2 separate regions of the Homo sapiens genome follow, and region 1 is linked to region 2. Evidence: fine-mapped expression QTL. Tissue or cell type: whole blood. Region 2 holds a variant in brackets; the other region holds the start of a gene. All regions are shown on one strand. Distances are from middle to middle.

Region 1 (6,963 bases), 25 kb before region 2:
ATGGTTTTTATGCTGTAATGTGGTTGTTGTATAAATACCTACATACTATCCTCAATTTTGACTCGATCTACAAAACCTAAACGATTTACTATCTGGCCTTTTCCAGAGAAAACTTGCTGCCCGTCTATAGAGCCTTATCTGCGTTCCACATTCCAGCAGTTTGGATCTTCCTGTTCTTCTGTGGCTCTACTGTATCCCTATATGGTTTGTTAACGCGCCCCTGGGTTGGGAGCATATCACAAAGCCCAGACGGATAACAGTCTGCGCAGGTCTGCGGCGATGGCGACCATCTGTCTTTCAAAACATCTAAACAGATTCTTCCCAAGTGTCTTACATCGGGGTGATAAATTCTGGTCATGAAACATATTTTTGGGCTGCTGCTGGCTATTCTTCTGGAAGAGACAGTTCAAGTTCCAAAGATTCCTCTTCAAAGGAGGAATCCCATGGGCCGGCAATGTCCGTATGAAGTAATGAGTGCTGTTCTCATCTGATTCTGCCCGCTTGAACTCCTGCCAGCAGCAAGTGCTGGGCTGCCTTGGCAATTCCTCAGAGCCTCTCCATCATCTTGCTTTTCTAAAGTATGTTTTTTATGGCATAAAACTGTTTCCCCCATACCTAATAGGAAAAAAGGAACAGCTACTGAAGACAGAGGCTGACAAATGGTAGATACATAATGGTGTGGGGCTGCCGCAGCCTGGGGGTGGGAGGGGAACCGGAAGCACTCTTCCAATTTCAAGATGAAGTTTATTCTACGATGGGATGAAACCCACATCATTACTTCTTGTACTCGATTTTAGCAGTTATGTGTACAGGCTGTTGGGCTGGGCTCCCCAAGCTCAAATACCAGCTTTGTCACTTCTGGTTGTGTGACCATAAGTTACTTCACCTGTTTGTGTCCTAGTTGTCTCATTTGTTTTTAAGTGATATGGGGTCTTGCTGTGTTGCCCAGACTGGTCTCAAACTCCTGGGCTCAAGCAGTCCTCCTGCCTCAGCCTCCCATGTCTCATCTTTAAAATGTGGATAATAAGTCATACCAACTTCACAGTGTAATCATGAGGAGTAAAAATAATAATATGCATCAAATCTTTAAAATGTTACCCAGCACACACTACTATTATTATTGTCACAATTACTATTTTCTTTTTAATAAAAATATTTTTTGTAGAGATGGGGTCTTGCTGTATTGCCCAGGCTGATCTGGAACTCCTGGCCTCAAGTGATCCTCCCACCTTGGCCTCCCAAAGTGTTGGGATTACAGGCATGAGCCACAGCACCCAGCCTAGTACTACTATTTTCTAGTAAATGAGAAGCATTAGATATGAGATAGGAGTGCAGTTACAGTAAGACAGTAAAGACTATTTGGAGTGTTCCTCATCCTATCCCTTCATTCAACAAACTTTTAAAAAAATTGTCTACTATGTACCAAGCACTGAAGGACTAATAAGACACATTCTCTGACCTCAAGGTATATGCGGCACTCAGCAATACAGACAAATCCATTCATTCAGCAAGTACCAAACAACACATGGAGTGGTCAGTCCTTTGGTGAAAAGACATCAAGTCAACATGTCCTTACAAACTCTAAGCTAGCACCATGGCAGTGTTTCACACGGAGAGCCCATCTAGTTGTCTAGGGAGTGGTCAGAGAAGGCTTCTCTACGAAAGGGATAGTTAAGCTGAAATTAGAATTTTGTATAGGAGAAAAGTACTTGGAGGAAGGAAGAGCATTTTCAGTGGAAAAACTGCATGGGTGAAGGGCCCAAAGGAAGGAGGAGCATATGACTCAAATACACTGAAAGGCCAAAGTATCTGGAGGACAGAGAACAAGAAAGGAGGGCGATGGGCTGTGAGGTGGTCAGGCCGAGGCTATAGAAAGGAGGGTTGAAGCAGAAAAGGGGCTTGACTGGATTCCATGTTTTTTTGTTTGTTTGTTTTTTGAGACAGAGTCTTGCTCTGTCACCCAGGCTACAGTGCAGTGGTACAATCTCAACTCACTGCAACTTCAGACTCCCAGGCTCAAGCAATCCTCCTGTCTCAGCCTGCAGAGTAGCTGGGACTAGCGGTGCAAACCACCACGGCCAGCTAATTTTTGTACTTTTAGTAGAGACGGGGTTTCACCATGTTGCCTCGGCTGGTCAAGTGATCTACCCTCTTTGGGCTCCCGAAGTGCTGGAATTACAGGCGTGAGCCACAGTGCCTGGCATCTGGCTCCTATTTTTAAAAGGTCACTCTGGGTGCTGTGCATAGAATGGATTGCACTGGGGCAAAAATGGAAGCGGTGTGAGGAGGGGGAATTTCAGTAGTCAATTCCATCAGGCAAGAAAAGACTGCAGAAAGAGTTGGGCTGGAGAGAAGTGAATGGATTTGCGGTGTGTTTCGAAGGTCAAAGCAACATGACTTGCTGATAGATTGGATTGGATCTTGAGGGTGAGGAAAAGCAAAACTGAGAGTACACCTAGATTTTTTTATTAAGCCACTGGGCAGTCAGTGCTGCCGTTCACTGAGACGGGAAAGGTTAGGGAGAAGCATGTTTGGGGGTGTGTGTGGGGAATCAGTTGTTTTGGCCATGTTAGGTTTGACACACTGATTAGCCATGTATGTGACAACACCAACTGGATACTCAAGCCTGAGGTTCTGGAATGAGGTCCAGGTTGGAGATGTGGCTGCAGGAGCCGGCAGCACAGCATGGAAAGTCGCCTGGAGTGAGTGGATAGGAACAGGACGAGGAGAGTCTGGAACGCTCCACTAACCAGTGGTTAGAGGAGCAGGAGCTAGGAGGGGCCTGGGAAGGAGCAGCCAAGATGCCCTCATGAAGGAAAATGAGAAAATGTTTCAAGAAGGGCGTGGGCAACTGTGACGAATGTTGCTGGTAAGAACAGAAGTGCCATGATTGGATCTGGCAATATGGCAGTCATTAGCAGTTCCCCAGTGGTGAGAAGCGAAGCCTTATTGCAGTGGCTTAAGGAGAAAATGCGAGGTGCGAGATTGCCATTAGATTCTTGCATGAAGGTTTGTCATGAGTGCTGCAGAAAAATGGGCAATGGCGTCTAAGGTGTGTTCTTGAAGGATGAGTAGTAACTGGTCAAGTGAAGAGGTGGAGAGGTAGGCTCTCTAAGGAGGATGTATTTGCAAAGCCATTAGAGCAAGGGAACAGAAATGAAATAAGTGTGTATTTTTCTTGCAATATTTCTGGAAGTTCAAGAGTCAATTGCATGCATTGGGGTTGTGCTCTTACAGCAGTCTCATTTAAATCCTGTCTGCTTTATCGTTATTTGTTAAAGAGACTGAGGGAATGGCTGAGATAATCTGATCTTTTTCAACTCGTTGGTTTGAAAAGACATCTAGGATGGTCAAGCGGCTGGACTTTATTAGCTACATTGAAAAATTCAGAATGGGATAGGGGAAGCTTGTTTTTATTCTAAGACTAGCACATTACAGTGTATGGGGAAGGGAGAAACGATGAAAAGAGGAAACAAGAGGAAGTTTAAAAAGTACAGGGTAGCACTGCAGAATGCCGACACTGCAAAAGTCTGGCGAGCGGGGAGGTGGAGGACAATGTCTCACCTGGGATCCGAGCTGTGAAGTCTCAACTGTGCCCATATGGACTGCATGAGCTTAACAAAATCCTTATTCTTTTTTTTTTTTTTTTGCATTTGCTTTCCATACTCTAAACACGTTTAACGTCGTTTGCCTCACAAGATTGCTCTGAAGGTGCAGGGAGACCGCGGCAGCACACACAAGGCACGTGCGATGCCTACGGTGAGCTTCACCTGCCCGGCGCGTCTGGCGAACGGCTGGCCCCGGGCCGCGGGCCTCAGGCAGGTCCGAGGGTGCCCAGGACAGGGTCGGGGCTTGAATGCCTTTGCTTCCGAAAACAGCGGAGCCGTGGGGCCTCCCCCGCGCCGGCCCTGCCTCCAACCAGCCGCCCAATCCCGGCTCCCATGCGCGTCCACGCCTCCCTATAAGATAAAGCGCGGCCGACGGGCTCCGAGCGCGGCCCCTGGGTTCGAACACGGCACCCGCACTGCGCGTCATGGTGCAGGCCTGGTATATGGACGACGCCCCGGGCGACCCGCGGCAACCCCACCGCCCCGACCCCGGCCGCCCAGTGGGCCTGGAGCAGCTGCGGCGGCTCGGGGTGCTCTACTGGAAGGTACGCGAGCCCAAGCCTCGCAGAGCGTGCGGGCGACGCCGACCCCCAAACGCCGCGCACAGCCCAGCCTCCTCCAGGTGCCGGGCAGCGGCCTGGGAGCCGCGGCATGCTGCGCATGCTCAGCAGCGGGATTTGGGGGTTCGTGGCGGCTCCCGGTGCCTGGGGTGGGCTGCGCATGCTCAGCAGTGGGGCTGGGTGGTCAGGGCCTCCTGCGCGGCGCCTGGGTGTGCTGCGCATGCTCAGCAGCGGCGTTGAGGGGTCGGCGGTCAGCCCCCAGCGCCTGTGGTGTGCTGCGCATGCTCAGCAGCGAAGTTTACGGGGTTGGCGGTCGGCTTCCGGCGCCTGGGGTGGGCTGCGCATGCTCAGCAGCGGGGCTGGTGGGGGTCGGCGGTCCGTTTCTGTTGCCTGGGGTGTGCTGCGCATGCTCAGCAGCAGAGTTGGCGAGTCAGGGGCCTCGCAGCCGGGACTCGCTGCGCACGCGCAGCTCCGGGATTGGCAGCGACCTGAAGGGTCGGCCGGCAGGGCTGCAAGATTCGCCGGAGGCGGGCTGCGAGTTCGTGGGCTCGTTGGGCTTGTCCGACGCCCTGCCTGCCTGGCTAACCTCGGTCAAAGGCCCAGGGGTTTCTTCTATCGGAGGAAGGGGGACTCCGCTTGAAAGTGTCCTGGGGGAGGGACCGGGCGCCAGCAGATCGAGGCGGGGTCCTGCCGCGGTCTGTCGGGGATCCCCGGGGGGTAGCGCTCGGTGGTGGGGTGGGGGCGTCTCCAGTGGGCGGTGGAGCTGGCTTGGGTCCCGGCTGGGCCCGGTGTCAGCCCTGCCTCTGTAACGCTAGCTTTGCAAGGCGGGGCTAGGCTTTGCACCGGTGTCCCGTTGCTTGCACAGCACCAGTCCAGATCCGCTCACCTTGTTTATTTGCAAATGGTTTTGCAGTAACAAAGGTTTACTGCAAAAGAGAGGGCCAGGGTAGGCCTCAGGGATAGGCTGAGGGGTGACTGGATCTAATCTTCATTCATGTGATTTAAATGAAATACACAGGGTTACCTGGACACCACACTTTTTCCCTTGGGAAAGGATTATAGAATATTCCAGCATAATCTATTTGGATATCATCTTGTTCTATCCTAAATAACAGAAGAGGGAAGTGACAATTGGCATACCAGTGCGAAACAGGGCATGCATGTTAATGTTTACATAGTATTTGTCTTTTCCTAGGATAAGGTTTAACACTTACCTTGCTGGAGGGTACTTCTTCAAAGCAATCAAGTGGTTTATAGTTTTCCATTAATGAGAGGAGAATAAATTTTGACTTATTATGTTTATCCACAATCCAAACAACCAGAGGGTTCAAATTAATACACTTGGGGAGTTTCATTGTGCATTTGACGGTTTTAAGAACAAGAACAAGAGTGAGATTACAGGTCAGCTTCTTAATGTATTCAAAGAATAAAATAAGATTTATTTTAATAGACATCTTTTAGATTATTACATGGGCTCAAACATAGTTTTTCCTACCGTCTAGTTCTGCTCTGAGTCAGGGCTATCAAAATTAAATCATGTTTACTCTGTGGTTTTAATGTCCTGTGTGTTTTTATATTCTTCCTTTCTTTTTTTTTTTTGCTCTTTTTGCCCAGGCTGGAGTGCAGTGGCATGATCTCGGCTCACCGCAACCTCATCTTCCCGAGTTCAAGCCATTCTCATGTGTCAGCCTCCCGAGTAGCTGGGATTACAAGGTGCACAGCACCATGCCGGGCTAATTTTGTATTTTTAGTAGAGACAGGGTTTCTCCATGTTGGTCAGGCTGATCTTGAACTGCTGACCTCAGGTGATCCACCCACTTCGGCCTCCCAAAGTGCTGGCATTATAGACACGAACCACCGCACCCGGCCTATATGCTTTCTTAATATCCATTCTGGATCAGTGCTGTTGGAAGACAAAATTACAACAAATTTAGTTAAAGATCTAATTAGCTTTTATTCTTGATTTGTGAATAGGGCAACCTCCGTTCTACAAAATAGAATAAGAGCTCGATAGGGTAATAGCACAACAGTGGGTTTTGTAGGGCGGCAACAAAGAAACAGAACAATAGGTAGAAAAGCTGATTGGTTAACGTCAAGTTACATTAGGTTACTTTTTTCCTAAGGGTTAAAGCAGAAGCGACTTCCTTATTATTCTGACTCAGGAAGACTGGAATCTTCTGATCGCAGGAAAAGCTGGTCTGTTTGAGATGCACCTCCTTCTTTAAAGTTTTAGTTTGATCAAGTGGCATATGGCATGAGTGGCTGCATTTTGGTTTGGTCTCATCCTGGGGCCTAGTGCAGGGGCTCAGTCCAAAACAGTGACCTCTCCTGGGCCAGGCATGGTGGCTTCTGTCATCCCAGCACTTTGGGAGGCTGAGGCGGCAGATTGCCTGAAGCCAGAAGTTTGAGACCTCATCTCTAAAAAAACCCAAAAAACAAAAAAGCCACACACACACCCCATATTAACATTATATATATGTAACATCTCCCATAATTTTTAACAGAGGTAACACATGTGGACATGTTTGTGTATCTGTTTAATCAATCTGTTATTAGTGACATAGAGTTCTAAAAAACCTTTTGTCATACATACAAACAATTGGAAGATTATTTTAGCTTGGAATAAACTAAATACCTGCTGCTATAACAAAATGACAAAAATAGCTTAAACTGGGCAATTTATAAACAACAGCAATTTATAGAATTCTTATAGTTCTAGAGGCTAAGAAGTCCAAGATTAAGGTGCCAGCAGATTTAGTGTCTGATGAGGATCCTGTCCTCATAGACGGCCATTT
Region 2 (6,963 bases):
AGCTGTTGAATTTTAACAGGAGTATTAGTACATAAATTTTCTACTCAACAATTCCGAGATAGGATTATGCCTAGTTTGTCATATCACAGAAAAACTCCAAGTTAACTTCATGTTTTGGAAGGGCAGGTCGTTTTTAAAGTATTTCTTTTTTTAACTGGATGAAAAATCTTCATGTTAGGATTAATTTTCTTAATCACCTCCACACTGTACAGAGGAAACTCAAGCCTTAAATGTTTAAGTAAACTCTGTCTCAGTTTTAGGATTAAAATACCCACCGGTGGTGTGATGATGCCATATACCGCAGGGCTTGCTTCTGTCAAGTGTGACTCTATCTCAGTAATTAAAATAAGTGCTGATCTACTGATTTTTTTTAATGGATTCATTTCTAAATGGGCATTATAAATAGAGCTTGTTCATTTTTAAGAACGAAACATTCATATGATAAACTATCGCTTTAAATTGCCTTTCTTGCTTCATATAACTTTTCCCTGTCAGGATCCTTAGTGTTTGAAACTCCTCGTGCGGGGCTGGCCTCCTGCGGACTCTAGTTTCGCCTCCTTGATGTGGCGCCTGGGATTTCTTCACTTCAGAGCTGTATTTTTACAGGCAAGAGTAAGTTCCTGGGCACAGTGGCTCATGCCTGTAATCTCAGCTACTCAGGAGGCTAAGGTGGGAGGATTCTTAGAGCCTGGGAGGTCGAGGCTGCAGTGAGCTGTGATTGTGGCCACTGCACTCCAGCCTGGGTGACAGAGCGAGACTCTGTCTCAAAAAAGAAGAAAGAGTAAGAGCTGAGGCATATAATAGAATTCTGCTAAAGCACTTAAGGTGAAATCACATTTTCTTTTCCCAGGATGTTGCTCACATCTTTCGTTTTTATTGAGGTGTCATTTATATACAATAAAATGTACTCATTTTCAGTGTTTTTGAATTTTGACAAATGCAGCATGACCTCAGGCAGAACAACATAGGACATTTTCATCACCCAAAGAAGGTTCTCATGCCCCTTCTTAGTCCCCCCACCCCATCCTAAGCAACCTATGTGGGTGGGTTTTGGCTTTTCTAGAATTTGATGCACGTGGAATCCTGCAGCATGTTCACGTTTGTATCCGGCGTCTTGCGTTCCTGCTTCTGTTCCCTGATCCCTACACTTACACTGTCTCCTGGGTCAGGGCAGCCCCTTGTTAGTATCTTAAACAATGGAACGGTTTGAGGAGAGCTCGAGGGTTGAAAAACACTAAGCGAGCGGAAATGTAATGTAGTAAGAAACAGAACTCTAGGCGGGGAGAAAACCTAGGGAGGTAAAAGGCTGTTCTTCCCGAAGGCATCACTGTAAAGTAGTGGGGGGGTCTCTCTTCAAGCCGAATGTTAGAGAAGACGGATCCTTGGCTGGGCGCGGTGGCTCACGCCTATAATCCCAGCACTTTGGGAGGCCGAGGTGGGCGGATCACCTGAGGTCAGAGGTTCAAGACCAGCCTGGCCATGATGGCGGGTGCCTGTAATCCCAGCTACTCAGGAGGCTGAGGTGGGAGAATTGCTTGAACCCAGGAGGCGGAGGTTGCAGTGAGCTGAGATCTTGCCATTGCAGTCCAGCCTGGGCAGCAGAGCGAGACTCTGTCTCAAAAAACAAAAAAAAGAAGATGGGTCCTTTATAAACACATTCGTTAGATTCTAAATCAGGTATTTTTTCCAAGGAGCCCAACTGTTAGTTTCCCAAGCGGGACAGCTGTTGGTTTTCACTGTGTCCAAGTTCGTCAATTTAGAGCAGGCTCTGCCTGCTTGCTGAGTAAGATATTCCTGGACATGTGTTATTTTTCAAGTGTGCCCTCTTTTTACAGGCACAGATGTATTTATTGCCATGGGGTTTATGACTGGGATATTAATAAATCAGAATATGAATTATCGCACTTGAGTATGGCTTCAAGCTGGTTAATGTGTTGGCATTTTCAAGACACTTTGATTTTTCCTGCCGTCTTCCTACTCGAGGTAGATACCGCACTGCAGACAGCACAGGCAACCTGGTGAGAGGCCTGCTCGCATTGTGGGGACTTCACGCTTGTTTCTAAGGAGTAGGCGTGGATAATCCAGGAAATGTCCAGCCTTGTTCTATCTTGTTCCAGATTCAACATCTTATCCCAATGAAGTCCTGGCCCCAGGACGCTCTCCCGGTTTGGAATAGCTGTTACAGGCTTCTTCATTCCTGCGGCGGCTCATTTCCCTATTTGGTTTTGTCCTCACTTCCGAAAAGTGAATAGGATCATCTCCTTTCTGATTTTTATTTCTCTTCTTGCCATCCATCTCTTCATCTTGTTAACTAAAAGATGACACAATCTATACATTTAGAAGAGGAGACATTCTTTCTTTTTCTTTTCTTTTTTTTTGAGATGGAGTTTCATTCTCGTCGCCCAGGCTGGAGTGGAGGGGTGTGATCTTGGCTCACTGCAACCTCTGCCTCCTGGGTTCAAGCGATTCTCCTGCCTCAGCCTCCCGAGTAGCTGGGATTACAGGCGTGCACCACCACACCCGGCTAATTTTTTTTGTATTTTCAGTGGAGATGGGGTTTCACCATGTTGCCAGGCTGGTCTCGAACTCCTGACCTTGGGTGATCCATCCGCCTGGGCCTCCCAAAGTGTTGGGATTACAGGTGTGAGCCACCATGCCCACCTAAAGACATTATTTCTTGTAAAGAGTTACACTCTGCAAGGTGGCATCCCGCAGGCTGGGAAGCACAGCCTCCCGCAGAGACCGCAGACAGGCATCTTGGAGGAGAAGGGGCAGGAGCTTTATGCTGAATGGGCTGGAGGATCATACATATTCAACAGGTTACAGGAGGAGCTGTGAATATTCATGAAGTGGTCCTGACGCATGTGTATTGAACAAACATCCACTTACATACAACCCATGTTCACCTTGGAGAGGAGACTTAACATCTACGTGCATCCCAGGCAGGCTCTGCACTTCTAAAGGTGAAACAGGGACATGAAGGCTCCCAGTGCTCAGCCTCTATCAGCCGGCCAGAGCCCATCCATGGGCTTATTCTTGTCCAGAGGAAGTTACTGAAATCGGTCTCTTGTTCCATCAAAGCTGTAGTTACGGCTGGTGGAACAGGGCCAGTTAGCCAGCATCGGGTGGTGGATAAACTACGACTTGTTTTCATCTTGCTCATCTCAAGGCCAACGCTGGTTTAGCTGCTGGAGAAGAAAACCTTGGTGGTGGTGAGGACAGAGTTTCTTATTTAGGTTCAGGGTGCGAGACTTCGCTGTAGCCTGGCCAGGCCTTAGGTCCTGTGTGTGATTTGTGTCTTATTGCCACAGTCTGTTCTCTGGTCTCACCATCTCTATTTTAACATGAATGCTGGCCAGTTGTGTCTAAATCCCAAAAGGGAGGGGGTATAGTGGGGTGTGTCTGACCTCCCGTCCATCGTGCCTGGGAACTCATTTTTTTTTTTTTTTTTTTTTTTGAGACGGAGTCTCGCTCTGTCACCCAGGCTGGAGTGTAGTGGCGCGATCTTGGCTCACTGCAAGCTCCACCTCCCAGGTTCACGCCATTCTCCTGCCTCAGCCTCCCGAGTAGCTGGGATTACAGGCGTCTGCCACCACGCCCGGCTAATTTTTTGTATTTTTATTAGAGACGGGGTTTCACTGTGTTGGACAGGTTGGTCTCGATCTCCTGACCTCATTATCTGCCCGCCTTGGCCTCCCAAAGTGCTGGGATTACAGGCTTGAGCCACTGCGCCCCGGCTGGGAACTCGTTTTTTAAGGTTGGCCAACGGGTTCCATTCAGTCAGTTGGGGGGCTCAAGATTTTACTTTAAATTTGCGATCCTTATCATTCAAGTGTAGAAGGAAGAATGGAGAGCCCGGTGAGACGCTCCGCTGGCCTCTGAGCAGCGACTGTCAGCAGATGCCCCTCCTTAGCCAGGGCCCCAGTGATGGTCTCTGTGTGTGAGCTGATTAAAAATGACGATAAAGAGGCCTCCGCTATCAGCTCATGACCCTGAACTCTCCATTTTAAAAAAGCCTAAATTGACCTCTTACAGAAGGGAAGGACGAAGAGAGACTCACTCCTCATCGGACTGGAACTAGGTGGAAGCAGGGAGGAGCTAGGCTCACAGTGACTGCGTAGCTCAGTTTATTTCCTGCAGTCCCCATTTCTGACATTCTGTCCTCTGGCCGTATATGTACAGACCACATATTCTAATGTTTGATTAGAAAATATAGCTACTAAATTCAATTCTTGCATCAAAATTGTATTTTAAAATATAAGCATGTTTAATACTGGTCTACAGAATGAGCTGGTTGCTTTGTTTGTACACAGAGCTCACATTAAGCCTCACGTCCAATCGT[G/T]GCTTCCGTCCACTGTGATGGGCGGATTCTTCCTAGGGGCCTCCCCTGGCCGTCTCTCACTGTGAACGCCACCCCTGTCTCCCGCCCACACCACTGCAACCTGCCTTACAAACTCCCCCGCTCTCCTTCCAGCCCAGCACAAGCTCAGGACGCCAGACGTCCACACTGCCCAAGCTGCTGTGGTTCACCCAAGACTTTGGAGGAAATATTCCTTCTTAAATTTGTGTCAATAAGCCAGACAGCTTTCCAGCTCCTTAGAAGTAGTTATCCTGTGGAGTGTGGACTTCATTCTTTACCTCCTTAAATTAAGATGAAATTTAGAAAGGCAAACCGGGCTGCAGTGGGCACCTGACTGCACAGAGTGGCTGCTGATTTGCTGATTTGCAGGAGATTAAACCCAATCCGAGATGGAGGGGGTCTCATTTCTGCGCTTACATCGTCATGCATGTGGTTGGACTTGTGTGCATGCGTGTGGACCTGCGTGCCTGTGTGTGCACGTGTGCTTCTGCGAGCTCTTCAGAGAGCCTGTAGAGGCTGGTGGTTACGAACTGAGGGATGTAAATGAGCCACTGTGGGCTCCATGACCTTTCTTTCCCTGCCTGTCCCCCAAGGAGGGGCGTGTGAGGTAACCACTGCAGACGTTTTCCTGCGTGTCCACAAGGAGATCGTCTGGTTCTATTGATGGAGGTGTTTTCCCTAGTTCTGTGGTGAAGTTGGCAGCTTCAGACATTTTGTTCTCATGACGCAGCTCTGACAACTAAGATGGGCTCCCCTGCCTCGGCCGGGCTCCTCGGTTTCCCGAGAGTGAGGCCTCTGTTGGTCGATCGTGTTACCGGGTGGCTGTGAGTTACGCAACTCACGAAAACATCTCATCCGGATGGGCATGGGGCGGGAGGGTGACCCCAGGAGCTATGAGTAACTTCCCAGCATGCCGGCTTCTTGCGCGTTCCCAGAGCCTGGTGTGTGATACCCCAGGTGGGCGGGTGGATGGCTGGAGTCTGGTTCTAGTCACACAGACCAAGAATGCGACATTTAGATGTGATCTAAAAACAGCCATTTTTCCAAAAGCTGTTTACTTTGGAAAGTGTATCAGGCAGCAGTTTCTGGAGACCTGTAATCGTTTTATGATTTATGCAGTGAAAACCTAATTACAAAAAGGACGGGCGCGGTGGCTTACGCCTGTAATCCCAGCACTTCAGGAGGCCGAGGCAGGAGGATCACTTGAGGAGTTTGAGACCAGCCTGGCTAACATGGTGAAACGCCATCTCTACTAAAAATACAAAAATTAGCCGAGCAGGGTGGTAGGCACCTGTGGTCCCAGATACTGAGGTGCTGAGGTGGGAGGATCACTTGAGCCCGAGAGGCATGACAGGTGTGTACAGGGGCTGAGCGGCAGGTACTTTCTGAATCTCAAGGGAAGACCTGCAGCCCGTGGGCACTTCACGGGCCATGGATGGAGCGCCTGTTGTCAGCGGCGTGGGAGAACTCTAGGGATGGGGCTGTGCTGAGGCCAGCGGCCTGCAGGTGCACGGCCAGTGAGCTGGGCTCTTTCCAGCAACACCTTCAGGAGACTCTGGTGGTTTCTTTTCTCCCTCATTCTCTGACAAAGAAGACGCTGGGATGCGCCATGCATCCCACATCTGAGAAATGCTTGCCTCCTGTGTGCTGGACACTGGGCCAGGCGCTGGCGAAGGGATAGGGTGGTGGAGCCAGTTTATCCTGAAAGTCCCTTTGCACACATCTCTTATTACATGTGTGTTGAGACCGAAAATAAAGTCTGGAACCAGGGTGTCACAGATGAGGGTCACAGACACACAGCAGATATAGCATGGTGCTCCCAGCAGAGATGGAGCTCCCAGCAAAGATGCAGGAGAGCATGTACAGTCCCTGGACTCAGCCTATGTGCAGCAAGAAATTCATTAGGGGATCTCTGGCCCCGGGTGCCACCTGGGAGCATGTGTGTGCAGGGCCACCTGGCCAGCGAGGGCCCTAGGATGGCCTGACCCGTCAGGGATGCTGACAGCAGGGCTGGCTCAGTCACCGAAAGGGGAAACAAAGGCTCTCCGGGGCCTCCCTGGGGCTTGCACCATCCTGAGGTCTTCAGACCCCCTTGGAGACGGAAGGGAGGTGGCCGAGTGGCCTGTGGCGTGGGGCTCCTTTGCTGTTCCTTGCAACTTGGGGGTCTCTGACTCTTGGAGCTGGGTGACAGGTGGGGATTTTTGCTCCTCTAATGGTCTTTGGATGATAAACTCCCAACTGACGCTCCAGGCTGGTGTCTTTACAATGCATGCTCTGAGGAAAGCTAGTCTGTGAAGCCATGCATTGAAAGGGTTCTATTATGGGTTGGGAGTCTGAGTCCCTCTTGGGGAGAGCCGTCGTGCAGGGAGCAGCTGGAGGCCTCGGGGCTGTGCTTAGCTTTGCTTCCCCAGCTTTGCTGACCCCAGTGAGCTCTTTCCCACGTGGTACCTGTCAGCAGTGCAACGGGAAGTTCTGTGTGTGTTAAACCACACAGGGGGTTCAGAGCTATCCCCAGGGCAGACCTGGAGTTTTTTCTGGTGTTCCTTAAAAGCATCTGATGAATATTGGGATGAATTTCCTGAAGAACTTGGAGGAGACTTTCT

The links. PIP is the estimated chance that this variant, and not a neighbour inherited with it, causes the effect.
Region 1: ADI1 starts here. The variant in region 2 is fine-mapped to the expression of ADI1 in whole blood (TOPMed, PIP 0.97). The same link has a PIP of 0.9 or more in blood mononuclear cells.

Annotation. Positions count from the first base shown.
Region 1 is chr2:3,516,558-3,523,520 of GRCh38, reverse strand. ADI1 (acireductone dioxygenase 1) reads left to right here and starts at 3,990. Exons shown (of 4, transcript NM_018269.4): 1 at 3,990-4,153. The coding sequence starts at 4,034. LOC124907725 (a long non-coding RNA gene) reads right to left here and starts at 3,975. Exons shown (of 2, transcript XR_007086195.1): 1 at 3,565-3,975; 2 at 1-615. RefSeq lists enhancers at 3,282-3,802, 3,803-4,324 and silencers at 3,744-3,873, 3,944-4,263, 4,344-4,403, 4,884-5,083.
Region 2 is chr2:3,491,320-3,498,282 of GRCh38, reverse strand. It overlaps ADI1 (acireductone dioxygenase 1), which reads left to right. Exons shown (of 4, transcript NM_018269.4): 4 at 1-917. Among named protein-coding and RNA genes, the nearest start is that of TRAPPC12-AS1, 12 kb to the right of the region's middle. The variant G/T (reference allele first, on the strand shown) is at 4,343.